Linked DNA regions of Homo sapiens: regions 2, 3, 4, 5, 6 and 7 are each linked to region 1. The links come from fine-mapping of genetic effects on gene expression. A gene starts in region 1. Each other region holds a variant in brackets. All regions are shown on one strand. Distances are from middle to middle.

Evidence for each region.
Region 2: its variant is fine-mapped to the expression of BAZ2B in tibial nerve (GTEx, PIP above 0.99).
Region 3: its variant is fine-mapped to the expression of BAZ2B in whole blood (TOPMed, PIP 0.99).
Region 4: its variant is fine-mapped to the expression of BAZ2B in whole blood (TOPMed, PIP 0.97).
Region 5: its variant is fine-mapped to the expression of BAZ2B in monocytes after R848 (Quach 2016, PIP 0.95).
Region 6: its variant is fine-mapped to the expression of BAZ2B in fibroblasts (GTEx, PIP 0.93).
Region 7: its variant is fine-mapped to the expression of BAZ2B in whole blood (INTERVAL, PIP above 0.99).

Annotation. Positions count from the first base shown.
Region 1 is chr2:159,614,935-159,618,934 of GRCh38, reverse strand. BAZ2B (bromodomain adjacent to zinc finger domain 2B) reads left to right here and starts at 2,387. Exons shown (of 37, transcript NM_013450.4): 1 at 2,387-2,693. It overlaps BAZ2B-AS1 (BAZ2B antisense RNA 1), which reads right to left and starts at 3,641. Exons shown (of 2, transcript NR_110588.1): 1 at 3,482-3,641; 2 at 893-3,185. RefSeq lists enhancers at 2,298-2,367, 2,618-2,697, 2,325-2,851, 3,908-4,000.
Region 2 is chr2:159,331,525-159,335,524 of GRCh38, reverse strand. It overlaps BAZ2B (bromodomain adjacent to zinc finger domain 2B), which reads left to right. Exons shown (of 37, transcript NM_013450.4): 34 at 2,839-2,985. Among named protein-coding and RNA genes, the nearest start is that of WDSUB1, 47 kb to the right of the region's middle. The variant C/A (reference allele first, on the strand shown) is at 2,281.
Region 3 is chr2:159,507,069-159,511,068 of GRCh38, reverse strand. All of the region lies in intron 2 of BAZ2B (bromodomain adjacent to zinc finger domain 2B), which reads left to right. Among named protein-coding and RNA genes, the nearest start is that of BAZ2B-AS1, 110 kb to the left of the region's middle. The variant T/A (reference allele first, on the strand shown) is at 1,950.
Region 4 is chr2:159,592,444-159,596,443 of GRCh38, reverse strand. All of the region lies in intron 1 of BAZ2B (bromodomain adjacent to zinc finger domain 2B), which reads left to right. Among named protein-coding and RNA genes, the nearest start is that of BAZ2B-AS1, 21 kb to the left of the region's middle. The variant G/A (reference allele first, on the strand shown) is at 1,844.
Region 5 is chr2:159,571,853-159,575,852 of GRCh38, reverse strand. The region is part of intron 1 of BAZ2B (bromodomain adjacent to zinc finger domain 2B); the gene reads left to right. Among named protein-coding and RNA genes, the nearest start is that of BAZ2B-AS1, 41 kb to the left of the region's middle. The variant GTTTT/T (reference allele first, on the strand shown) is at 1,514.
Region 6 is chr2:159,548,128-159,552,127 of GRCh38, reverse strand. The region is part of intron 2 of BAZ2B (bromodomain adjacent to zinc finger domain 2B); the gene reads left to right. Among named protein-coding and RNA genes, the nearest start is that of BAZ2B-AS1, 65 kb to the left of the region's middle. The variant G/A (reference allele first, on the strand shown) is at 2,214.
Region 7 is chr2:159,578,436-159,582,435 of GRCh38, reverse strand. The region is part of intron 1 of BAZ2B (bromodomain adjacent to zinc finger domain 2B); the gene reads left to right. Among named protein-coding and RNA genes, the nearest start is that of BAZ2B-AS1, 35 kb to the left of the region's middle. The variant C/G (reference allele first, on the strand shown) is at 2,368.

The DNA of each region.
Region 1 (4,000 bases):
ATTATTGGAACCAAAAATTGAACCATGCTTTGCAGTATATTGTTTGAAGTATTTAAGCAAAGGATGTATTCTTAATTATTCGAGTTACAGTGTGCCACTTAACTTTATTTCAAGCGAGGTATATTTTGGGAGAATTCTTTATGAAAATCAAGATAACTTGAATCTAGCACTTTTTCCTTATCTTTTCAAAATTAAATATTTTCAACAGTAATGCTAATGATTAGGTAAAGTGTCAGTAATAGATTGTTAAAACATTAATATTCAATACTTTACGCATAGAAATATCAGTGTATTCCATTTTTTAGTTCCACATACTTAAAAATATTATTTATTTAATGACCACCATTATAGAACAATGCATTAACTTTTTTGTATGTGACTTGGGATAGAAGTCTTAGATACTAAGTGCATTCATACTTATATTTTAATCTATATTTTTCTTCTGGAACATTATTAGTAAATTTTGAGATTATAGAACTGTTGACCCAGTCATACATGTACAGAGCTTGGCCTCCGAGTTAATTAAATATGAGTTAATAATATATTATAAGGAAATTATTGTCCTTATTACAGTTATTAGGTAGTTACTCAAATTATAGCTTGAAAGGAATGCAGAGCATGGAAAACTCAGGATTAAATTATGCATTTGAACCTTAGGCCAGTTTTTACTGTAGAGACAGTTTGCTGCTAAAAGAGAAATTGTATGTCATTGAAATTAAATGCTTTTCTGGGGATGGAAGATTCCAGTTTTTAATGAAATTACTGAGTGTGGTGTAGTGAAATGATTAAAATCTGTATTCCGGGAATGTGGCAGGGAAAAAAAATCAATAAGTGCTAGCACAGCTTTGCTGCTCAATGTGAATCCTGAGAATGAAATAAACTACTACAAAAATAATAATTAAAAACATATCAGCACATTAATTTATTTAGCATCAGTCTCCTGAGACATCATCTTCACTAATTTTTAGCATACATTTTACTCTGTAATGAGCAGCCTTCTTTTCAGATATCCCTATTAGACAGGCAGTATTTCTGCCCTTCCCCCAGTGCTCCTGCATTGCAATCATTGTACTTGCACTTATTATGTTACAAATGACCGAGGTAAGGCTGACATTCTCAGTGCATGCAAAAAGACCGAGTCTGCCAAGCTTTTTTTTTTTCCTAATGAAGCAGCTTTGTGAAATCTCCCCATGTGTTAATACTAATGAAGATCCTCCAGCACAATTAAAATCACAGCCAGTGGCTGAAGAGGAAACATAAAACAATAGCATCTTTTAAGATACATTTATCCACATATGTATAAAATATACATAGATGATCAAATTATTCTCCGATAGCTTAATTTTTACTTACTCTTCATCCTGAAAATTAAATTATGCAATTTTTAATTATATGAACTTTGAGACTTTCTTGTGTTCTGGAGGGAAAAAACGGTACCTCAACGAACTTCTAAAAAAAAAAATACGTATCTTCTTGGCTAATAAAGTGTTATCAAGATTAAGGCTTTTAAAAAAATTGTTTTTAGGAATCTATAGGATGGGGTGCGGGAGGGAATGGGGCCTATTGTATCTTTAGTTTAACTTGATTGGTTGCAGGATTTGGGAATTGGGGTTGGGGGAGTGGAAGGGTAAAAACAAAGTTGGAAGAGATTCTGGGGGTAGACCATAGCATATGACTGCATTTGTAGTTTAAAGGAGCAAAGGGCTACCAGTCTTACTCATAACTTGATTTTTAAAAAGTGTTCAGTGCCTACAATTTGCTATGCTTTTTTTCTAATCTCTCAGAAACTTGAAAAAAAGCTATCGAGATTACCTTTTACAGTGTGTGCATATAACTTTAAAACGACTATTTTAACGTCTTTTATTTAAATTTTATTTTAACTTAGTGCATAAACATTACAGCCAGTTTAACTTGTCCGTGGAAAGGCAGTAGAATTTTACCCCGGGACCGTCTTGCATACTGCTTTTTTTGAGTTTTAACATCCGCAAAATCTTGGCATATTAATTTAGTTGGGTTGTAGAATTCTGAGTTTAGGAACAAAAAAAATTTAGGTGGAGATGGTTGACCTATGCTCCCTACTCTGTAGCTTTTGTTTTTTTAAAAACTAAGTTTTAAATCCCGTTTTCTGTCCTGTCTTCTTTAAAAGCAAAACAAAACATTTTAAGTTTCTTAACTTTTTCCTGGGACAAGGAACGGTGCAAACTCAAAGCTACAGTATTCTTGGAAAGAAGAAGCAACCCCCTCCCTTGGCTCCTTTAGGAGCTGATAGGTCATTTATTATTGGAACTGAAATGGTATAAACAATTCTCTCTCTTTTTTTCCCTTGTTAACAGCAACTTTCATTGTTAGAGAGAGGAGAGAGAGAGAAGCCTTGTTGGTTGACGTCACTTGGTTCATGAAGCCTTCGCCTAGAAGTGAAGCTGCTGAACAAACCTTGAGAAGAATCATCTCCTGCTTCAATCTGCTGCTGGATAGGAACTAATCAGAGAGAGAGAGGCGGAAGACGGAGAAGGAGGGAGTCGAAGGCTTTCCCGATCACAAATCTCACCTCCACTACAACTCTCTTTATACTTTTCTTGCAGAAATAATAATAGAAATAAGGAGGTGGTGGGGTTTCCAAAAATCTTAACCTTCAACCATCTGGGGAAAAGGCAAAAATCCCATCTACCGCAACTCTCAGTTCGAGAGTAAAGGTGAGTTTAAAATCCTCGGGCGTGAGGGGTGCGGGTGAGGATGTAAATTCCCAGTGTTACAAAGCCGGTGGAAACAGCAGCGGAGAAACTGCGCTCGGGCAAGCGGGGGACTCCGGAGTTGCTGCGTGGAGGCGCTCGCCCCGCCGCCCTCTCGCCCTCCGCCGCTGTTTATCCTCGCCGGTCGGTGCGGCTCTTTGTTGTGGTGGCCGGAAGGCTGGGGTGGTTCTCGGGGTCCCGAGTGGAGTTTGGGGGAGGAGGACACGGAGATGTGCCGTCCTGGGTGGGAGGTGGGGGGTGCGGCCTCAGGAGAACGTAAACTTTATTCCTAGAAGCCGGTGCGGGACTTCGCTGGAGTAGGGCCGTGGGTTGTGCTCCCGGCCGGGCAGGCGCTGCCGCCGCGAGTCCGCCGCCTTTGTGCCGGCCGCCCTGGCTTCGCGTCTCCTTCCTCTTCCCCTTCGGCTTCCAGCGCTCAGGTCGCCGCCAACAGTTTTGCTTCTTAAAAAACAACCTCTGTCAGCGTTGCGATGGCCGTTCCTACCCCGGAATATCCGCTGCTCCCCCACTCCCTGCCGGGGTAGTTTCTGGATCACCCCCCACCCCCGTCCGCCTCCTGCTGCCCTTTTTTGCCTCCGCCCCCTCTTCCCTGTCGGACTGACGAGCTGCGTCTGCCACCCCCACTCCCCGGCTTGGGCCTCTAGCTCTCCCGTGTGTAGCTGGAGGCTCTGAGTTTACTGAAGATGAGCGGGGGTGGGGGTGGGGCAGGTGGGATTGGGAAAAGATCTGGATACCTGGGAAGGTCTATGTCAGCACGCAGAAGGTTTGAGGAGCATTGCTTCTCATACAGTAAGGTCTGTGCCTTGGTCTCATGTTTTAGCAGTTCTTCCCCGGGAACGACCGCCAGCTCCCAACTCCTCTGCTTCCCTCTTTTAATCTTCTTGTCGCTACCCCTCCCCCCAGCCCCCGTTCTCTTTCGCGGCTCCCTCCCCTTTAAGTAGTTTCACGAACCCCAGAATTGGGATTTGAGAAGGGGAAGGAAGTGTTTGAAGAGTCAGAGCTGGCTCTGTTGTTTGGGAGATTTTCTCTTCTTTTCTTTCTCCCTCTGTATTTATCTTTTGTCTGTTGCTTCCTTATAAAGAGGGAAGCAGCTGCAGTCCTTGGCCGAGTTGTTGAAATTTATCCCTTTGTGTATATTACAATATCCTCCATTTTTTTTCCTGCCCTCTAAACAACAAGCGTTTCGCCATCTTGGGCAATTTTATTCCCAAGTCTCTCTCTTTTTTATTTTTGAGGAAAGGAAAGAAGTATTA
Region 2 (4,000 bases), 280 kb after region 1:
CCAGGCTGGAGTGCAGTAGCAGAATCTCAGCTCACTACAACCTCAATCTCCTGGGTTCAAGCAGTTCTCCTGCCCTCAGCCTCCCGAGTAGCTGGGATTACAGGCGTGCACCACCATGCCCAGCTAAATTTTGTATTTTCAGTAAAGACAGTGTTTCACCATGTTGGCCAGGCTGGTCTCGAACTCCTGAACTCAAATGATCCGCCTGCCTTGGCCTCCCAAAGTGCTGGGATTACAAGCATGAGCCACCGCACCTGGCCCAGAATTTACTATAAATTTTAAGGCACTGTTTGATTCATTTAATAGTGTTTTTACCAGGTACAAATATTTTTTCCTTCTAAAAATTATTATTAAAACCAGCTTGAATGTCACCTTAGACAAATATATTTGGTGAGATCTAGGCAATAATGATTTTTTTAAAAAAGAGAGAGAAACTGAGACTGATTTCTTGCCAGTTATGGTGGTGCATGCTGATAGTCCCAGCTACTCCAGAGGCCAAGGCAGGATCATTTGAGCCCAAGAGTTCGAGGCTGTAGTGTGCTGTGATTACACTTGAGAACAGCCACTGCACTATAGCCTGGGCAACATAATGAGACCTTGTCTGTAAATAAAACTGAAAAAAAAAGATTAAGTCCTAGATCAAAATGAAATTTGTATTTATATTTTTCTCATCTACACCAAAGCAGTCATCATGATGTGTTCAGTTTTATTATAAACTTACACACATAAACCTAAAACTTGTATCAAAACCTGCCTTTATATTGATATATTTAAATTCTGCAATCTATAGCTTTATTTCCATTTTTGCAAATTCATTAACCTTTCTCTTGTTCTTCATCTACTCTTATTAATCATATAACTCCATCTCTCACAATCTTCATTTCCTTTTTAAAATGCTTAATAATACATTTCTTGCTATGAAACTACCTTGAAAAGAAGGCAGTGTTTCATATTCAAAGATTAAGAAGCACCTTATAACCTTTAGAGACATAACAGTGCCTATAGTAATCCTCATAGTAAGTCCTGACAAAATATTAAAGTGCTCGATATCTTTAGAAATACCCTTTTGGACAAAGACCAAGGTTATCAAGAAAAAGAGGGAGTTGTCATAATTTGCCTCCAGATAATTCTCTACCCACAGTATGCTTTATATTGTTAAACAGTAGGCAGCATCCACTATTTTTTACTGTAGTAGCAGAGGAATTAAAACCAAATAATAATATATTTACTGTAACATATTGTGAGCTATTACTATAATTTTTCAAAATTGTTATGAGTTTGATATCTGTCACCCTTTCTTTAAAAGTATCAGGAAATAATTTTATTTTTAAATCCTAAGTGTGAGATGTAAGACAGATCTTGTAGCATTTATAGTTGCCTAGTAGAGAAAACAATGAGTATTTACTTATGTTCATGAATCTGATTTTTAAATTGTGTTGTTACAGGGATATACATATAACCTTGCAATTGTTATTTCTCAGTGAATACTTTTACAATAGAAGTTTTAACGATGTAACTCAAATATGGAGAAACAACACCATCTTAAGGTATTCAGTGATGGTGATGTTAGGAAAGGTCAAAAAATAGATACTGATTATTGGAATGTTAAACTGCTGCTTTTGCCCTTGGTAACCGCGCCAATGTTAATATGAAATATATAGTATATACATTTGATAAACATTTGTTAACTTGAATAGTGTGTCTGCTGTTTTGATAAGATTCTACAACTGTCATTGGTATACATACTAAGTTATAAGAAGACCATTTTAGACTTTCCCAGACTAAGATATAATGTTGCATTGAAAATTAAAGTAAGTTGGAACAGTTAAGCTATTTTGTTTTTAAGAGCGTATAAATACCTAACTTTAAAGTAGTTTAAATGATTTCTGGTTACATGTTTTCATTTTTAAAAATATGGACTGCAGGACATTTTTTTTTGTGACTGGAGTATGAACTAGATGTCAAAAAACAGTGTTAATGCTTACTGTCTTTTAAAGCCATCTTGGAAGTTTTTACTTGTCTAACTTTTCTTCTTTCCTTTGTAAAACTTACCGTACAGAATATGTGTACATGGAAAAAGTCTTCTTTTTGCAGATTTAAAGTCTTTAATTATATTAGAAAATTTTCAGTAGAAAACAACTAGTTTTATTTTTAATTCTAAAAAAATAAATAATGACCTCTTAACTTCTTACATGTATTGTATCTTTTTTCCTTAGAAACCATTTTGTAGGATCCATTTTCTGCACTTGTGACACATGTTTGATTTGGGTTGATTTTCAA[C/A]GTTTCCTGGTTTGAACACATTTTCCAATCTATCACAATATATAGATGAATTAGTCAAAAATCTAGGGTTATCTTTTTATTATACGTAATTATGATACTAATACAAGTTTTCTAATTTTGATTTTAAAAAATACTCTAACTCTTATTTCTTTCTCAGGATATCATGAGGATGCTAAGATAAGCAAAAGATGAAGCACATTAAACAAATAAAACATCATGTATTAAAGCTATTCATTGCTTTATGTGCTCTAATGTCATGTTAATTATTTCATATGTTAATGTGTACATGCTTCTGAAGTGTGTGCAAGGCATTCTGCCTCTAGCTTTGTTCTTTGCAGTGTACTTGAAATGTGCATTTACCCCAATAGAACTGCTCACCCGTCATGTGGTCCATATCTGTGTAACGAAAGATACATAGATGTGTATGGCTACTGTATATTTGTAAGCAAGCGGAATGTTCATTACTAATATAAATTAGGAATTATGGTGTGTTTAACATCCCAATAACTATTATTCATGGCAGAGCGTTAATTTTAAATGATTTTTCATGTATTATAGTACTGCCAAATCTGTCGAAAGGGAGATAATGAAGAACTGCTTCTTCTTTGTGATGGCTGTGACAAAGGCTGTCATACCTACTGCCATAGACCCAAGATTACAACAATCCCAGATGGAGACTGGTTTTGTCCAGCTTGCATTGCTAAGGTAAGACCAATCTAAAACTAAACTTTTCATTTTATTTTATCTTTTTATTATTTTTTTAATACATGGTCTCAGTTGCCCAGGCTGGAGTGCAGTGGTATGATCATAGCCCACTACAGCCTAAAACTCCTGGGCTCAAGCTATCCTCTGGCCTCAATCTCTTGAGTAGCTGAGACTACAGGTGTGCACTGCACCCAGCTAATTTTTTTTTTTTTTGAGAGAGAGATAGGGTCTTGCTATGTTGCCTGCAGTGGTCTCATCCCTGGCCTCAAGCAATCTTCCTACCTCAGCCTGCCAAGTCACTGGAATTACAAATGCAAGCCACTGCACCTGGCTCCAAACAACTTTTTAATTACTAGATCAAAATGCAGAATTTTATGGTGTTTATTTTTGAAGGCAGACTCTAGGTATTCCCTACCTCAGTTACTTTCTCCCATGTTTAATCTCTTAACCTAATTATTAACAGTAAGCTAATTGTTAACAATCTCTTAACCTAACTTTTAACTACCGCCTCTCCATAAACTCACTTCAAACATCCATCTGTCCACCTCCTTTCTTCCCTTCCAGTTCACTCCCTGTAGCACTTCAACTCCAACAATCCTTGGATCTCACCAGGACTTTCGGTTTGTCTTAAGACTTTTCACTGTTGCTCTCCCACTTCATGTCCTCTCTTTCCTCCTATTCTGTCTTATGTGTCATTATCCCATTATCCCAATCATTGCTTCCACCATTAGGTCCTTTGCCTGCCCCTGCCCTTGGTAAAACCGTTATTCTGGTTAATACAATTCTCTGATTTCTCTAGCACCTATACCTTTGTATCTGAATATAGCTGTGTAATACTCAGCCTTTAAATTCAAGGCTTTAAGGCCTGGGTATGTTGGCTCACACCTGTAATTCAAGCACTTTGGGAGGCCGAGGCGAGCAGATCACTTGAGGCCAGGAGATCAAGACCAGCCTGGCCAACATGGCAAAACCCCATCTCTACTAAAAATACAAAATTTTAGCCAGGCAAAAATTA
Region 3 (4,000 bases), 110 kb after region 1:
GGTCCTGATTTGACAATCTGCGCTATTACTAATCTAGTTTGGTAAATAAAGTATAAACAAATATTAAATGAGTCTTGATTTGATAATTTGAGCAACCAGTCTAGTTTTATAAGCAAAGTGTAATCAAATATTAAATGTGTTACAGTAATTAAAAAAACCAGAGATGTCAAAAGGAGCATAAGATTAATTGCTTAATGAGTGATATGTAAGTAAAATATTATGAGTTGACAGTAAGAGAGCGGTCATTGGAATGACCAGGAAAGCTCCTTTAAGGAAAAGGAACTAGAACAGTATCTTCAAGCACTGAAGAAGGACTTCAAACATTAATTTTTACAAATAGCTTTTTTGAGATATAATTCACATACCATACAGTTCACCCATTTAAAGTATATAGTTTAATGGATTTTGGTATATTACATTTTTTTTACATTGCAGTAAAATATCTATAACATAAAATTTGTCATTTTAACCATTTTTATCTACACAATCCAGTGGTCTTAATTACATTCACAGCGCTGTACAACCATCATTAGTGTATTTCCAAAATTTTTTCATCATCCCAAACAGAAACTCTGTAACCATTAAGTAATAATAACTCCTGGTCAGATGCAGTGGCTCATGCCTGAATCCCAGCACTTTGGAAGGCTGAGACGGGGTCTCAAGGATCACTTGAGACCAGGAGTTCAAGGCCAGCCTGGGCAATGTAGTGAGACCTTTGCTCTACAAAAATAAAATAAAATAGCTGGGCATGGTGGCACACGCCTGTGGTCCCAGCTACTCAGGCCTCGAACACAGGAGGTTGAGGCTGCAGTAAACTGTGATCGCACCACTGCACTCCAGCCTGGGTGACAGAGTGAGACCCTGTCTCAAAAAAAATTTAAAAATAAAAAAAAGCAGTAACTTCCCATTTCCCTCACCATCCCCCATCTCCTAGTAACCTCTAATCTACTTTCCATCTCTGCAAATTTTCCTCTTCTACATATTTTTCATAAGTGGAATCATACAATATTTGTCCTTTTTTGGGTTGGGCTTATCTCACTTTAGAGTTTTCAGGGTTCATCTATGTTATAGCATGTAGCACAACTTCATTTCCTTTTATAGTTCCATTTTATAGATATATGTATATGTGTACATATATACATACAAATGTACATTTATACATACACACTAGTATGTATAAATGTACATATATACACAGTTGCTCATATATACATGTACATATATACATATATTTGTGTATACATATCCATATATTTGTACATATATACAAATGTACATATATACATATGTTTGTACATATATGCAAATACATATTAAATATGTATATATGTATATCACATTTGTTTATTCATTCATCTTTTGAGGGATATAGGTGTACAAGTATGTTTTCAAGTCCCTGTTTTCAATTCATGTAGTAATTTTACATTAACTTTTTGGAGGAACCACAAAACTGTTTCCAGATAGCTGAATCAAGCATTGATTTTATTCTGTTACACTGTATAGTGAATGTAAAAGATTAGGCTGAATGAATACTGGCTTCAGCACATACAGGGTATTTTTCTTAAAAGAGAGGAAAAAAGCCATATGTGTTATGTGTGAAAACATATGTATGTGTAAATAGCCACCTCTTAAAGTGAACTTTTAAAAAATAATTAAGCCTTCTGGTTGTATGTAACCCCAGTTTTGTAATATTTTCTAGAAGTGGTCGTTGAGTTTGAATTTCTTAGTCCCTAGGAACAATGTTATAAAAGGATGTTTCCACAAGTAATTAGAATTAAAAGTGTATTTCTGCCCATTTTTAAGATATCTATTAGTTGCCTTTTTTGCATTATAATATAAAATCACTGAATTATATCTGACTGGAAAGTGTTTCCAATATATTCTTTTTAGTCAATTTATTTTCTTTGATATATGTTAATATTTTATATTTTATAAGTGAGAGAGAGGAC[T/A]ATAATGATTTCATTCAGCATTTTTGAGATCACTCTTACAAGTATAAATTCTGGAATTCAATATGGATTAGGAGAACAATGTTTACCTATCTTTTCATAGATCAGTGAGGGACCACTAAGCCAAAAGGCAGGGATTATTTCACTGGCTTGATAAGGTTATAAGAGTGAGGAAATGGGGAGCAATATTAAAACAGGGAAACTTTGACCTAATTACAAGTTTCCCTAAGAGGGATATATAATATCACAAACCCACAAACAGTAATGAATTACCACTTGTGGATTCAATAAGGAAATAAATGGTAATAACAGATATAATGGGTCATCCTGATGACAATATTATTTAGGACATCGGAGAGTAATTTCTGGAAATAAAAGGAAAACTAATTGGAAGTTTTCTTTAAATTTCTGGTCAGGGGGTATACATGAGAGTATGTAATGCATAGGGAGATTGAAATAGCCAGCAATTTTGAAGAAACTGACATGGATAGCTCATGGAATTTTTTTTTTTATTTTTGGCAAACCTCTGAGGCAATTTGCCTTAATATGAATTTGAATCTTAAGTAGGAACTGGGAATGAGATTATAGGGTGTTTAAATCATTAACAAAAGTTAGACTTGGAGAAATCTTTTGGGAAATAAGTTTCCACTTGGTTAAAAGCAAAATTTCAATAATCTATAGAGCATATAATTGTAACAAACTAAATACTCTGAATAACTTACCGAATACAAATTCAGTAATTAGATAAGTAGTTTAAATGTTGTTAGTTTGACTTTGCTGATCTGGCAAGAAAGTAAGAAGTCACTGTGACTAAAAATTAAGTGAAATAGAAAATTTAAAGAGGATAAGAAAATGTCAAAGCCAACTTCCATTTCAAGGAACCTGCTGAACTTGTGATGGAAGTTCTATTTATGAGGCTGTATAATAGCCCATATTTGAAATCAGATAGATAGGCCAGGCGTTGTGGCTCACATCTGTGATCACAACACTTTGGGAGGCCAAGGCGGGTAGATTGCTTGAGGCCAGGAGTTCGAGACCAGCCTGGCCAACATGACGAAACCCCATCTCTGCTAAAAATACAAAAATTAGCTGGGCATGGTGGCGCATGACTGTAATCCCAGCTAATCGGGAAACTGAGGCACAAGAATCACTTGAACCGGGAGGTGGAGGTTGTGGCAAGCTGAGATCATGCCACTTGCACTCCAGCCTGGGCGACAGAGGGAGACTCTAAATAAATAAATAAGTAACTTACGTAGTGCTGTTATTTTTATTTCAAAACGTCTCTACCTCCATTTTGAAACAACATGATCTCTTTTGAACCTCCGTTTTTAAAACGTTTAAGTTCCTTCTTTTTAAAAGTAATCATACCTTTAGTATAACTCTTACCCACTTTGTCCCTTCTCATTTTCTTATTTTAAAGTTTTTTGGTTATTCAATTTAGATTACTTCTCATGGTAGGAAGATTATAATGAATCCTAGATCTAATTTGATTCCTAATGTTTTAGTGCATTGATTGAAAAATACATCAAATTTTCCGAAGTCATATTAATCCCTTATACACAAGCAGACACACATTCAAAAACCCTTAATACCTTAGAACTTTCTGGACCTCTAGTATATGTGAAATTCAAATGAAATTTTTTTAGGGAGACCACTGCTTTTCTCTTCAAAGAAACACCTTTCCAACTCTTAGTTTTCACCCAAAACTTGGAATTAATATTCTTTCTAGATATAATTGTTTAGATTTTTTTTTTAACCTCCTCACTGTCGTAGTTGTTTGAAGCCTAACTTTCATTACTAAATCAGCTGTTGATCTGTTGCCTAATAAACTTTTTCTGGAGCCTATTTCTTCAAGTTTTGTACTTCTCTTTAATGTATCAGGCTATATTTTACACAGGAAACCTCAAGTTTTTTGTTCTCAAAACCATTTAGCTCTTCTTTGCAGCCACCTAATCTCTCTTTGACGACCATCTAAGCATTTTTCAGAAGGCCTTGATTTGTAATTATACCAGACTTTATTTTGGGGCCCCATGAATCTAAAACTTTTATAATTA
Region 4 (4,000 bases), 22 kb after region 1:
TTTCTAGGTTAGGTCCTTCATTGTCTTTTATATTCTTGAACAAACTTTAGGGCCGTGCTTCTAACAGGATCTGTGGTGTCACGCATATTTTTATAAAAATACTAAAATTTGCTAAAATGCAATATATTAATCATTGTTGTCTTCAAATGAAACAGTAAATAAGCGCTTAAAATAGTTCTGAGTCTTAATTTCCAATATGGTAAACATCAAGACTTACAACCTATGTACAATGAAAACTCTTTTGGAGTCTTCAACAAGTCCTAAGAGTGTAAAGAGGCCAGGAGACCAAAATGCACAAGAATCCGTTCTTTAGGACAATACTACTCCTTTTCCTTTAAAATAAATGCACATACCGAGCTGTGATTCCATGTCATTGTTGCTCCTGGTATAGTCTGTTAAAAGAAAGACTTCAGCCAAATTTATTTAAAGTGTTTAATTGAGCAAAGAAAATTCACGAATCAAGCAGCCTCCCAAGCCAGAGTAAGCTCAGAGACTCCAGCGTAGCCAAGTGGTGGAAGAAGATTTATGGACAGAAAAAGGAAGTGACATACAGAAAACATAAGTGAGGTACAGAAATAGCTGGATTGGTTACAGCTTGGTATTTGCCTTAGTTAAACACAGTTGGAACAGTTGGCCACATTTGATATGCCAAAACTGGGTGATTGGCACAAGAGTGGGCTATGGACTGATAGTACCTCCGCTTGTTAGATATAGTTCAGAATGTACAGAGAAGCCTCTAGGTTGAATTTAAAATATGTAAAGAGGCAGCTTTAGGCTAAACTTACATAACAGATTTCAATGAATCATATTAATTGTAACTTTTAGTCGAAGTGACTAATTTCTGTTTTACAGAGAAAAGTTGGAGGTGAATAATTGAGAACTGTGTCATATACCAGCATTTTAGCAGACTAGTAGAATTCATGAGCACACACAACACCACTTTTTACAGCACGCATACCTCTTTTTCGCCTCTTAAAGTGGCAAAAATTGACATTTCCACTAACATGACCTAAAACAGCTTGTCATTAGTATATAAAAACAAGAAACAAAAGTGTATGTTTAGCCTGTAATCCCAGCACTTTGGGAGGCCGAGGTGGGCAGATCACCTGAGATCAGGAGTTTGAGACCAGCCTGACCAACATGGAGAAACCCCATCTCTACTAAAAATACAAAATTAGCCAGGTGTGGTGGTGCATGCCTGTGATCCCAGCTACTCAGGAGGATGAGGCAGGAGAATCGCTTGAACCCAGGAGGCGGAGGTTGCGGTGAGCCGAGGTCATGCCATTGCACTCCAGCCTGGGCAACAAGAGCAAAACTCCGTTTAAAAAAAAAAAAGTATATGTTTAAAAGGATGCATAGTAATCAATGTTTCAGTATTTTGCTTAGAAGTTATTACGCATTGAATAATTATTTAATATCAGTCCAAGGTTTTAGGCTACCTAAAGATTTGAAAATTATCTTCAAGCTGCCATGCTGCAAAATATACTTACTGTTGAAATAAAAATTTGTTGGGCCATGCCCGGTGGCTTGGGCCTGTAATCCCAGCACTTTGGGAGGCTAAGGCAGGCAAACAGCTTGAGCTTAGGAGTTTGAGACCAGCCTGGGCAACATGGTGAAGCCCTGTCTCTACAAAAACTACAAAAAATTCACTGGGTATGTTGGCACGCGCCTGTAGTCCCAGCCGCTTGGGAGACTGAGCTGGGAGGATCCCTGGAGCCTGTGAGGCGGAGGCTGCAGCAAGCCATAATCACGCCACTGCACTCCATCCTGGGCAACAAAACAAGATTACATGTCAAGAAAAAAAAAAAAACTGTCAAAATAATGACTCAATTTACTTGAACAT[G/A]AGAATTTATCTGTTTCATGTTGTAAACTTTAAGGATTAATGCTAGCTTGTCCGATTGGTTAAAGCCATAAATTTTTAAAATTAGAATGTATTAAATTAGTCCCATTTGCCAAAGATTTACCTTTCTTTTGTAAACTTGGGTTCTTAAGATTAAAAACTAAAATACTTAGTTTTTCTAATTACTTTTTTTTTTTGAGACGGAGTCTCGCTCTGTTGCCCAGGCTGGAGCGCGGTGGCGCGATCTCAGCTCACTGCAAGCTCCGCCTCCCGGGTTCATGCCATTCTCCTGCCTTAGCCTCCGGAGTAGCTGGGACTACAGGCTCCCGCTACCACGCCTGGCTGATTTTTTTGTATTTTTAGTAGAGACGGGGTTTCACCGTGTTAGCCAGTATGGTCTCGATCCCCTGACCACAAGGTAGGCCGCCCGCCTCGGCCTCCCAAAGTGCTGGGATTACAGGAGTGAGCCACCGCGCCCGGCCGACTTTTTGTTTTTTAATGCACATGCAGAATATTAGAAGTTCAGTGTTTTTATTGTCTGAGAATTTAGTTCAAAGAGAATTGAAAGGCCTGGAAATGGATAGTGGTGGAGGTTGCACAGTATTGTGAATGAACTTAATGCCAGCTAATTGTACACTTAAAAATGGTTAAAGTATGTGCTCGATCTCTAATTTCTAAAACAAAGCAGGGACAGGCCTGGTTAGTACTTGGATAGGAGAATGTAGGCTTTTTAAAAAACTGGCAAAAATGGCAAATTTTATATTACAGTAGTCCCTGCCTTGTCCCCGAGGAGATACGTTCCAAGACACTCAGTGGATGCTGCCTAACCCCCAGTGGATGACTATGTTTTGTCAATCTAATAACTAGACAACTATTAGGTGACTAACAGGCAGGTAGCGTTTATAGAGTAGATATGCTGGACAAAGGGATGATTTGTGTCCCAGGCAGGTTTGAGGGGGAAGGCATGAAATTTCATCATGCCACTCAAAATGGCACACAATTTAAAACTTGTGAATTGTTGATTCCTAAAATTTTCATTTTAATATTTTTGGACGTTGGCCAACTGCTCGTAACTGAAGCCTCACAGTGAAAATGTGGATAAGTGGGGACTACTGGTATGTGTATTTTACCACAAAAAACAACCCCCAAAACAAAAAGGATAGTGAAAGGGACAGATAACTTGGTATGATGCCCTAGATAGGACATAATCTTTTTTTTCCCTTTGTTAAAGTCTTCCATAATTTTTCCTCGCAGGAACATTATCCTAAGAGGGGTAAGATTTCAACTGATGGAATACATAGAAGTACATTCCAGATTCTACAAAGATAAAATACAGAGATTTGGTCAAAGTTTGCATGATCACTGAGGAAAATAATGATAGATTTAAAGGTGGAAATATAGATTTTGGACATACTCTTTGTTCTCTGATGGTACAGATTAGCATATCATATGTTTTATTAAGTGAACATGTATTTTCTTTTTATTACTTTAGTTTTCATATGGAGTTGGGGGCTTAAATTTTTGTTTCCCTTAGCAGTAGAGTAAGCCCATTTGGCATGAGTTTTGGCCAAACTGCATCACAAATCTTAAGGCTTTGCTTCATCATTTATTTGCTAAGTATCTTCTCCAGGCAAGGAACTCAGTGTTGGGGTGAGAGGGAATAAAGAGATGAATAAGATACTTTATCAATTTATCTAATTCTGTTTAGTAAATATTTCAAAACTTAACAGGGTAAAACATATTTGTTATTGGAGTTTCTGTAGTTCAGGAATCTCGTAGTGGCTTAGTTAGGTGGTTTTGGCTTAAGATCTCTCAAGAGGTGGCTGTCACGCTGTCAGTTGGGGCAGCAGTCATTGCAAGGCTCAACTGGGGCTAGAAGATCTGCTTCCAAGCTCATATAGTTCTTGGCACGCCTTTTTTCCTTGTCCCTGTTCTGTTGGTGGGAGGACTTAGTTCTTGATCACATGGTCATTTCCATGGTGCTGTGTCTGACATGGCAGCTTGCTTCCACCAAAGTGAGTGGGTGAGAGTTGAGAGAGAGACAGAGTCTCTTTTTAGAATGAGAATGTTGTGAAAGAGGAAAGAAGATAATTTGAACATAGAGCAACTTGAAAAAGAACAAGCAGTTTAAAAGATCTGTTAAAGTCATGATATTGGGCC
Region 5 (4,000 bases), 43 kb after region 1:
TTGGAGATTTCATATTCAATCATGTTAAAATTTTTTTCTTTTGAAAATGATATTCTTGAGTACATACTAGTATCACTTCAAGAGTTTTATAATCATGTTAATGGAGTACATATAATCATGCTTTTTGTGGATTTTGACCTATTATTCCAATTTCTAGTCTACCAACATTGTTTTGACTCTTCAAATTTTAGAAGTGAGTGATCTAGGGTCTCCATTCCTCACTTTACAGGTTAGGAATCTTAGAGAGGTTCAATAATTAAGTAGTGGCAAATACTGTGGTCCAACCTTAAAAGCAGTTGTAATTTCATTTGGATCATTTGGGTGTTGACTTCTTTGGAGGCAAAGGTTTGTTAAGCCTTCTCAACTTAATGAATTCCTCCATTTACCTTTATATCCCTAATATTATAACTCTTTATAACTCTGTGTCTAGAAGATGGTAAGCCCTTGATACATGCCTGTTGAATTGACTTCACTTCTATTTTTTATCCAGTATATTTTAACCTCTTTCAGGCTATCTACTCTCCCTTTCTGCATGGTTTTTTTTCTTTGGGAGGCAGAGTGTTGCTCTGTCGCCCAGGCTGGAGTAACCCTGGTATGAATGAGGGAAGGTCCAAAAGGGTCCTGAGCATAGAAGCATAGGACTCCCTGTGGAGTCATTCTCCATTTCCTGTTCCCCCAACTCCCATTACCCACTATCCTACTTTCTCTCTCTATGGATTTGCCTACGCTGGACATTGCATGTAAGTGGAATTATACAATATATGGTTTTTTGTGACTGGCTTCTGTCATGTAACATAATGCTTTCCAAGTTCATCCTTGTTGCAGCATGTATTACAACTTCATTTTATTTTCTTTTTTCTTTCTTTTCTTTTCTTTTTTTTTTGAGATGGAGTCTTGCTGTGTTACCCAGGCTGGAATGCAGTGGTAGGATCTTGGCTCACTGCAGCCTCCGCCTCCTGGATTCAAGCGATTCTCCTGCCTCAGCTTCTTGAGTAGCTGGGATTACAGGCGCATGCCACCATGCCCAGCTAATTTTTGTATTTTTAATAGAGATGGGGTTAGGCTGATCTCGAATTTTTGACCTCGTCATCCACCTGCCTCAGCCTCCCAAAGTGCCGGGATTACAGGCGTGAGCCACCGCGCCCAGCCTTCATTTCATTTTCTTACCAAATAATATTTCATTGTATGAGTGTGTCATATTTTGTTTATCCATTTATTATTTGATGAACACTTGAATAATTATGAATAATGTTGCTGTGAACATTCATGTACAAAACCTACATACGTGTAGGTTTTTTTATGGACATATGTTTGTAGTTCTCTTGTGCATATAACTAGGAATGGAATTGCTGGGTGACATAACTCTGTTTAACTTATTGAGAAACTGCCAAAATGTTTTCTAAAGTGGCTGCAATGTTTTGCAATCCCACTGGCATTGTGTAAGGGTTCCAGTTTCCCCACATCCTTACAAACACTTATTAGGTTTTTTTTGTTTTGTTTTGTTTGTTTGTTT[GTTTT/T]TTAGCCATTCTAGTGAGTGTGAAGTGCCATCTCGTGGTTTTGATTTGCATTTCTCTGATGACTAATGATATTGAGCATCTTTTCTTATGCTTATTGGCCATTTGTGTATCTTCTTTTGATAAAATATCTATTCAAACCCTTTGCCCATTTTAAAATTGTGCTGTGTGTGTGTGTGTGTGTGTGTGTGTGTGTATGTGTGTGTGTGTGTGTGTGTCTGTCAGTCTCTCCATCTGTCAGGGTCTGGGTCTCACTGTGTCATCCTGGGTAGAGTGCAGTGGCACATCATGGCTCACTGTAGGCTCAACCTCCCAGGCTCTAGGGATCCTCCCCCTCAGCCACCCAAGTAGCTGGGACTATGGGCACATGCCAACACACCCAGCCAATTTTTATATTTTTTTGTAGGTAAGGGATTTTGCCATGTTGCCCAGGCTGGTCTTGAACTCTTGGGCTCAAGCGATCTACCTACCTTGTCCTCCCAAAGTGCTAGGATTATGGATGTGAGCCACCTGTGCCTGGCTGTGTTGTTTTTAATTATTGAGTAGTTATAAGTGTTTTTTAAAAATATATTTTGGATACAACTGTCTTCAGATATATGATATACAAATATTTTCTTCCATTCTGTAGGTTGTCTTTTCACTTTCTTGATAGTGTCCTTTGAAGGACAAAAGTCCACGTTATCTATTTTTCCTTTGATTGCTTGTGCTTTTGATGCCATATCTAAGTAAACATTGCCTAATCCAAGGTCAAGAAGATTTACGCCTTTATTTTCTTCCAGGAATTTTACGTTTTTACCTCTTACGTTTGGGTCATTGATTCATTCTTAGTTCCTTTTTGTGTATGGTGTGAGGTAGGGGTCCAGTTTCCTTCTTTTACATGTGGATATTCAGTTGTTCCAGCACCTTTTGTTGAAAAGATATTCTTTCCCCATTGAATTGTTTTGGCACCCTTGTCAAATATCATTTGACTGTACATGTAAGCAAGGGTTTGTTTCTTGAATCTCAATTCTATTCTGTTGATCTAAAGGTCTAGCATTAAGCCATGCTACTCTGCTTTGATTACTATAGCTTTGTAGTAAATTGAAATCAGAAAGTGTGAGCCTTCCAACTTTATTCTTCCTTTTCAAGATTATTTTGGCAATCCTGGCCAAAATAATCCAAAATTTAACTTTTCATGCTATTTTATCTGAAATTACTTTCTTCAAGGTCACTTATAATCTTTGGCCCAATTCAGTTATACCCCACCCCTAATTTTTTAGTCCTTTTTCAGTTTTCTAGAAAACTATCTCGTTTCCCACTTTCTGGTCCTCTTTTTGATATTTTGCCCTCATAATATTTCTTTTTATTTTCCAGCAGGTAGTGAGCACTTCTCATCTTCTAAGCACCCTGTTAATCTCTGGAAAAGAAAATTCCAATTAAACACAATCCTCATTCTCATGTTGCTTAGGATAAATAATATTAAGAGAGAGGCAGGTACATTCATGCTAATCTCTGTGTTTCATAAAGGAGAATCTGATTTTTGTTTTTGTTTTGGTTTTGGTAATGGATGTTGGCTTAAGTGTTTTTAAACTTGAAAATAATAGTTTAAAAGCATGTACTTATGTTAAAATAATTGTAAAATATAAAAGCAAGCACTATCTATATGGAAAAATTCAATACAAATGAATTGCAAGAACAGCAAAAATCTAGCTCTAAAAAGTGTTACAAACATGCCTATGCATAATAATAATAAAATATATGAGTAGTTTAATATATCTTCTATTTATTGTTCACTTTCACTTATTTATTGATTTATCCAAAATAAATGTATTGAGTATTGTGTGTGCTTTTCCAAAAACAAATTCTCCAATTATTCAGCACCAACTTTGTCTCAACAATTTAATTCCATTCTGACAGTAACTGTTCAAAGTTATTGTAGACCCCACAGTTTAAGGTCTCAGTCCCATAATACTGTCCCCACTTCAGATGCCAGCCACCAGTAGGGTCTCTCAGTTACTCACAGTTCTGACAGGCTGAAACTAATCAGAGGTTCCCACAACCCCCTTCAGTTTCAGTTATTTGCTAGAGACTCATTGAGCTCAGGAAAGTGCTATACTTATCAGTTTATTATAACAGATAACAAATGAGCATCCAGTTGGTAAGGTATATAAGGCAATGTGTAATAGGATCCTGAGCATAGGAGTCTCTGTCCCCTTGGAGTCAGAGTGTGCTACCCTCTCAGCACATGGATCTGTTTACCAACTTGGAAACTCTACAAATCCCGTAATTTAGTGGTTTTTATGGGGGTTTAATTACATAGGCATGCTTGATGAAAACTGGTGCTGTGGTTTGAATGTCCCTTCCAAAAATCATGTTGAAACTTGATGTTGCCATTGTAACAGTATTAAGAGGTGCAGCCTTGAAGATGTGATTAGGCCACAAGGGCTCCACCCTTATGAAGGGATTAATGCACTTACCTGGGAAGTGGGTTTGTTATCTTGGGAGTA
Region 6 (4,000 bases), 67 kb after region 1:
ATTCCCCTTAGGTAATGGGCGAGAAAACCAAGGTCTAGAGAGTTTGTGGGAAAGTAGTGCACATAATAGTTAAGGACATGGACTTGGGGTTAGAAAAACCTTTGTTTTAGTTTGTGTTCTGCTACTTCTGTAGCTGATGTGATCATGAGTCAGTTTCTTAGTCTAAGACCCAATTTTTTCTTTTCTAGAGTAGGGATAATATTATTATGTCTGGAATATTAAATAAACATTGCTCATAAAGCACTTAGCACAAAAGATGGCACATACTACACTTTTCTTACCCTCATCATACTCATCAATATCTGTAAAGTTACTTGTCTAAAATTACATGATTTGAGAACTTGGACTAACCTGACTTTGCTTTATCCTGTTAGAATTTTTACTGTTCTGTTTTGTGATCAGTTCTTACTTGATTAAAGGTGTCTAAATAGCATTTATAGAAAGTATAATAAAATAATTCAGAGGTTATTTTCTTAAATCTCCCTTAATCCTCTGTCTTCTCTGAGCGTATTTTTGCAGTTGCATTTACATGCAGTCTTGTTTATATGTAATTTCATTATTATAGTGGCTATATTTTATCTTCAGATATTCTTATTTAATATTTTACTGTATATTTAATAATCTGTCCTAAGGCAACTTTTTTTTTTTTTTTTTTTTTTTTGAGTCTGAGTCTCACTGTCACCCAGGCTGGAGTGCAGTGGTGTAGTCTTGGCCCACTGCCAGGTTCACCTCCCGGGTTCACACCATTCTCCTGCCTCAGCCTCCTGAGTAGGTGGGACTACAGGTTTCCGCCACCACGCCCAGCTAATTTTTTGTATTTTTAGTAGAGACGGGGTTTCACCATGTTAGCCAGGATGGTTTTGATCTCCTGACTTCGTGATCCGCCCACCTCGGCCTCCCAAAGTGCTGGGATTATAGGCGTGAGCCACCGTGCCCGGCCGGCAACCTTTTAAATAAAGTGGCTTTTTCTGTTTTTATTAAAATTTCTTGCCTGGGCACAGTGGCTCTCACTCCTGTAATACCAGCACTTTGGGAGCCCAACAGGGGGGATTGCTTGAGCCCTGGAGTTAAAGACCAACCTGGGCAATATAGTGAGACTTTGTCTCTACAAAATAATAAACAAAATCAGCTAGGCATGGTGGCTCAAGCCTGTAGTCCCAGCTACTCGGGAAGCTGAGGTGGAAGGATTGCTTGAGTCCAGGAGTTCAAGGCTGCAGTAAGCCAAGATTGTACCATTGTACTCCAGCCTAGGCTACAGAGGAAGACCTTGCCTCAAAAAAATTTTTTTTTCTATTTTTCTCTTTGGTAATTTTATTATGAATATTACTTAAATTTTGTAGAGATACACCTCTCCCAATAGTAATACTTAATAATTGAGATGTAGAAGGAATTGCTGTATAACTTTATAGTGTACATACTGTCAGAAATACTGGTGTTAGCTAGTAAATTTAAAATGTCAGGTACCTACCACAGAGAAGATATAACCAAGTATGGCATGATTGATAGTTGTCCCTAATACTGGTTTTCCCCCTCTTCTAATTTTTTTTCCGGTATATCACTACCTAGAATAAAAACATCATTTCCCCAGTCTCCCTTGCAGCTAGGTATAGTAATCTGGCTAAATTTTGGCAAGAGATATATAGGCAGAAGTAGTGTGTGCAACTTTCAGGATGTATCCTTAAAGGAATGGGTGCACATCCTCTTTTTCGCCCCCTTCCTCCTTGCTGGCTGAATTGTGAGCATAATTGGACTGTGAGTGGAAACCCTATACTGAGAATGGGTAAAGCAGCAGTAAGAAAGAAAATCCTTACTAACATGATGTTACACTGTCCCTACTGGCCTGCCTATCCCTGGATTTCTTTGACATGACAGAGATAAAATTCTGTATTGTATGAGCCATTCACTTTTGGGCTTTCTGTCACTCCTGGCCAAAACTAATCCTGATACACCAAGCTAGCTTGATGAAGAATGTTTATGCCATTGTGGCCGGATGCGGTGGCTCACGCCTTTTTTAATCCCAGGACTTTGGGAGGCTGAGGTGGGTGGATCAGGCAGAGGTGGGCAGATCACTTGTCTGGAGTTTTGAGACCAGCTTGGCCGACATGGCAAAACCCCATCTCTACTAAAAATACAAAAATTCGCCAGGCGTGGTGGCACATGCCTGTAGTTCCAGCTACTCAGGAGGCTGAGGCAGGAGAATTGCTTGAACTCGG[G/A]AGGCGGAGGTTGCAGTGAGCTGAGATTGCACCACTGCACTCCAGCCTGGGCTACACAGCAAGACTCTGTATCAAAAAAAAAAAAAAAAAGAAAGAAAAAAGTTTATGCCAGTGTGAAAATGTCTTTTTTTTTTTTTTTTAAACATCTCACTTGTTTTATTTGAACTCTACTGTCTCCATGGTTTAAGTCAAGCTTGTCCAACCTGTGGCCTGTGGGCCACATGCAGCCCAGGACAGCTATCAGTGCATCCTAACACAAATTTGGAAACTTTATCAAAACATTATGAGATTTTTTTTGTGATTTTTGTTTTTTAGCTCATCAGCTATCGTTCGTGTTACTGTATTTTATGTGTGGTTCAACACAATCCCTCTTCATCCAGTGTAGCCCGGGGAAGCCAAAAGATGAGACAGCTCTGGAAGTTTTAGGAGAAGAATGGAAAGGGAAATGATTCATTCTGTCTAGCACAGGGGATCAAGAAACGTTTGCAGAGGAGTGAGACACGTGGTCTAGACTTTGAAGTATAATGTAGAAGAGAGTCTAGAAAGAGGAAATAGGCATATAGACTTGAAAGAACATATGTTCAGAGACATGTAAATGTTTTAGTTTTAGTTGTTTGTTTGTTTGTTTGTTTTTGAGACAGAGTCTCGTTCTGTTGCCCAGGCTGGAGTGCAGTGGTGCAATCTCGGCTCACTGCAGCCTCCGCCTCCCAGGTTCAAGCAGTTCTCCTGCCTCAGCCTCCTGAGTAGCTGGGGTTTCAGGCACATGCCACCATGCCTGGCTAATTTTTCTATTTTTAGTAGAGATGAGGTTTCGCCATGTTGCTTAGGCTGGTCTCGAACTCTTGACCTCAACTAATCTGCCTGCCTCGGCCTCCCATAAGTGCTGGGATTACAGGCGTGAGCCACCGCGCCCGGCCTTAGTTTAACGTTGTTGAAATATAACATTTGAGGAAGTAAATGAGCCTAATGTTCAGCTCTTATAGGAATTTATAAACTAAAAACTTTGGTAAGTGCTAGATACCTAGTGATGAGTTATTTTAATGTAAATTTAATATTATTTATTGCTTTTCCATTAAATTTTAGTGGGGTTTTTCTTTGGTTATGTTTTTATTTTTAGAAACAGGGTCTTGCTCAGTCACCCAGGCTGGACTACAGTGGCACAATCATAGCTCACTGGAACCTCAAACTCCTGGCCTCAAGCAATCCTTCCACCTAGGCCTCCCAAAGCATGGAAGTTACAGGTGTGAGCCACTGTACTTGACTATCATTAAATATTTTTAATTTTGATAATATATTTTGATACATGTGTTGAGGAATGAAGAACAAAGCTAATATTTATTTATCCACTGATTTTTTAAGATGCTAGGTACTTATTTGAAACTTTAACAATTTTAAAAGATATATCATTACATTCTACAGATGCCCAAACTGAGACTTGGAAAGGTCAAATATCTTTCCTAGTGTGTTGTAAGTGATAGTTAAGTCATTATCTGAAAAGTGCAAAAAATAGTCATTTCCAGAACAAGTTTACTATGTACTATCTGACCTTTATTTTTCACTTTTCTAATACCAAAAGTAGAGTTATAGTCAATTTTAAAATATCTTTAGTAAAATATAATAACAGTGATAAAACTGGAAGTGAAAATCTTTTTAAGAATTTCCATATTTTATAGCAAGTGACAAATCTAAAGGTGTTAAAATTTTAAAATGTAGTACAGTAACGTTATAAAATACATCCTAAACATTTTGTTTTCTAGAGTCTGAATATTTTGAACAGTATCTTCAAA
Region 7 (4,000 bases), 36 kb after region 1:
CAGAGTCTCAAAAAAAAAGTATGTGAACTTACCCAGTGCATTTATGTTTTCTGGTGGCTACTTATTTGTATTACAAAGCGATATATTCTTACCGGAGAAACTCAAATCTGTCCATTCATAAAGTAAATATATTCCCTTTGGCCCTGCTGATGGCAGTTTCCAGAACTACTTTAAAATGGTTTGCTGTACATTCTTTCAGACCTTTTTAATATGCACATGAATATATATACTTATTTTTTAAAATCTAATTAAATATGCATTCTGCAGTTTGATTATATATTCTACCTATGCAACAGAAGTCTGCCATGTGAATATATATAAATACGTTTTCTTTAAAAGGATTATACAGTGATGTGTAAGCATTTTTTTTATACTTTAAGTTCTAGGGTACATGTGCACAACGTGCAGGTTTGTTACATATGTACACATGTGCCACGTTAGTGTGCTGCACCCATTAACTTGTAATTTACATTAGGTATATCTCCTAATGCTATCCCTCCCCCCTCCCCCCACCCGACAGGCCCTAGTGTGTGATGTTCCTGACTCTGTGTCCAAGTGTTCTCATTGTTCAATTCGCACCTATGAGTGAGAACATGCGGTGTTTGGTTTTCTGTCCTTGTGATAGTTTGCTCAGAATGATGGTTTCCAGCTTCATCCATATCCCTACAAATGACATGAACTCATCCTTTTTTATGGCTGCATAGTATTCCATGGTGTATATGTGCCACATTTTCTTTATCCAGTCTATCATTGATGGACATTTGGGTTGTTTCCAATTCTTTGCTATTGTGAATAGTGCTGCAATAAACATACATGTGCATGTGTCTTTATAGCAGCATGATTTATAATCCTTTGGGTGTATACCTAGTAATGGGACAGCTGGGTCAAATGGTATTTCTAGTTCTAGATCCTTGAGGAATCACCACACTGTCTTCCACAATGGTTGAACTAGTTTACAGTCCCACCAACAGTGTAAAAGTGTTCCTATTTCTCCACATCCTCTCCAGCACCTGTTGTTTCCTGACTTTTTAATGATCGCCATTCTAACTGGCATGAGATGGTATCTCATAGTGGTTTTGATTTGCATTTCTCTGATGGCCAGTGATGATGAGCATTTTTTCATGTGTCTGTTGGCTGCATAAATGTCTTCTTTTGAGAAGTGTCTGTTCGTATCCTTTGTCCACTTTTTGACGTGGTGGTTTGATTTTTTTTTTCTTGTAAATTTGTTTAAGTTCTTTGTAGATTCTGGATATTAGCCCTTTGTCAGATGGGTAGATCGTAAAAATTTTCTCCCATTCTGTAGGTTGCCTGTTCACTCTGATGGTAGTTTCTTTTGCTGTGCAGAAGCTCTTTAGTTTAATTAGATCCCATTTGTCAATTGTGGCTTTTGTTGCCATTGCTTTTGGTGTTTTAGTCATGAAGTCTTTGCCCATGCCTATGTCCTGAATGGTATTGTCTAGGTTTTCTTCTAGGATTTTTATGATTTTAGGTCTGACATTTAAGTCTTTAATCCATCTTGAATTAATTTTTGTATAAGGTGTGAGGAAGGGATCCAGTTTCAGCTTTCTACATATGGCTAGCCAGTTTTCCCAACACCATTTATTAAATAGGGAATCCTTTCCCCATTGCTTGTTTTTCTCAGGTTTGTCAAAGATCAGATGGTTGTAGATGTGTAGTATTATTTCTGAGGCCTCTGTTCTGTTCCATTGGTCTCTATGTCTGTTTTGGTTACTGTAGCCATGCTGTTTTGGTTACTGTAGCCTTGCAGTATAGTTTGAAGTCAGATAGTGTGATGCCTCCAGCTTTGTTCTTTTGGCTTAGGATTGTCTTGGCAACGCGAGCTCTTTTTTGGTTCCATATGAACTTTAAAGTAGTTTTTTCCAGTTCTGTGAAGAAAGTCATTGGTAGCTTGATGGGGATGGTATTGAATCTATAAATTACCTTGGGCAGTATGGCCATTTTCACGATATTGGTTCTTCCTATCCATGAGCATGGAATGTTCTTCTATTTGTTTGTGTCATCCTTTATTTTGTTGAGCCGTGGTTTGTAGTTCTCCTTGAAGAGGTCCTTCACATCCCTTGTAAGTTGGATTCCTAGGTATTTTATTCTCTTTGAAGCAATTGTGAATGGGAGTTCACTCATGATTTGGCTGTTTCTCTATTATTGGTATATAGGAATGCTTGTGATTTTTGCACATTGATTTTGTATCCTGAGACTTTACTGAAGTTGCTTATCAGCTTAAGGAGATTTTGGGCTGAGACGATGGGGTTTTCTAAATAAAAAATCATGTCATCTGCAAACAGGGACAATTTGACTTCCTCTTTTCCTTATTCAATACCCTTTATTTCTTTCTCCTGCCTGATTGCC[C/G]TGGCCAGAACTTCCAACACTATGTTGAATAGGAGTGGTGAGAGAGGGCATCCCTGCCTTGTGCCAGTTTTCAAAGGGAATGCTTCCAGTTTTTGCCCATTCAGTATGATATTGGCTGTGGGTTTGTCATAAATATCTCTTATTATTTTGAGATACATCCCATCAATACCTAGTTTATTGAGAGGTTTTAGCATGAAGGGCTGTTAAATTTTGTTGAAGGCCTTTTCTGCATCTATTGAGATAATGATGTGGTTTTTGTCTTTGGTTCTGTTTATATGGTGTATTACATTTATTGATTTGTGTATGTTGAACCAGCCTTGCATCCCAGGGATGAAGCCAATGTGATCGTGTTGGATAAGCTTTTGCTGCTGGATTCAGTTTGCCAGTATTTTATTGAGGATTTTTGCATCGATGTTCATCAGGGATATTGGTCTAAAATTATCTTTTTTTTGTTGTGTCTCTGCCAGGCTTTGGTATCAGGATGATGTTGGCATTAAAATGAGTTAGGGAGGATTCCCTCTTTTTCTATTGATTGGAATAGTTTCAGAAGGAATGGTACCAGCTCCTCTTTGTACCGCTGGTAGAATTCGGCTGTGAATCCATCTGGTCCTGGACTTGTTTTCGTTGGTAGGCTATTAATTATTGCCTCAATTTCAGAGCTTGTTATTGATCTATTCAGGGATTCAACTTCTTCCTGGTTTAGTCTTGGGAGGGTGTATGTGTCCAGGAATTTATCCATTTCTTCTAGATTTTCTTGTTTATTTGCGTAGAGGTGTTTATAGTATTCTCTGATGGTAGTTTGTATTTCTGGGGGATCGGTGGTGATACCCCGTTTGTCATTTTTTTATTGCGTCTATTTGATTCTTCTCTCTTTTCTTCTTTATTAGTCTTGCTAGCGATCTATCAGTTTTGTTGATGTTTTCAAAAAACCAGCTGCTGGATTCATTGATTTTTTGAAGGGTTTTTTTGTGTCTCTGTCTCCTTCAGTTCTGCTCTGATCTTAGTTATTTGTTGTCTTCTGCTAGCTTTTGAATTTGTTTGCTGTTGCTTATGTAGTTCTTTTAATTGTGACGTTAGGGTGTCAATTTTAGATCTTTCCTGCTTTCTCATGGGCATTTAGTGCTATAAATTTCCCTCTACACACTGCTTTAAATGTGTCCCAGAGGTGGTGGTATGTTGTGTCTTTGTTCTCATTGGTTTCAAAGAACATCTTTATTTCTGCCTTCATCTCGTTATGTACCCAGTAGTCATTGAGGAGCAGGTTGTTCGGTTTCCATGTAGTTAAGCGGTTTTGAGTGAGTTTCTTAATCCTGATTCCTAGTTTGATTGCACTGTGGTCCTAGAGACAGTTGTTAAAATTTCTGTTCTTTTACATTTGCTGAGGAGTGCTTTACTTCCAACTGTGTGGTCAATTTTGGAATAAGTGCGATGTGTTGCTGAGAAGAATGTATATTCTGTTGATTTGGGGTGGAGAGTTCTGTAGATGTCTATTAGGTCTGCTTGGTGCAGAGCTGAGTTCAATTCCTGGATATCCTTGTTAACTTTTTGTCTCGTTGATCTGTCTAATGTAAGCATTTTTAAATCATTCCTTTGTTGAGGGACATTTTGTTTGTCTCTCATTTTGGGAAACATT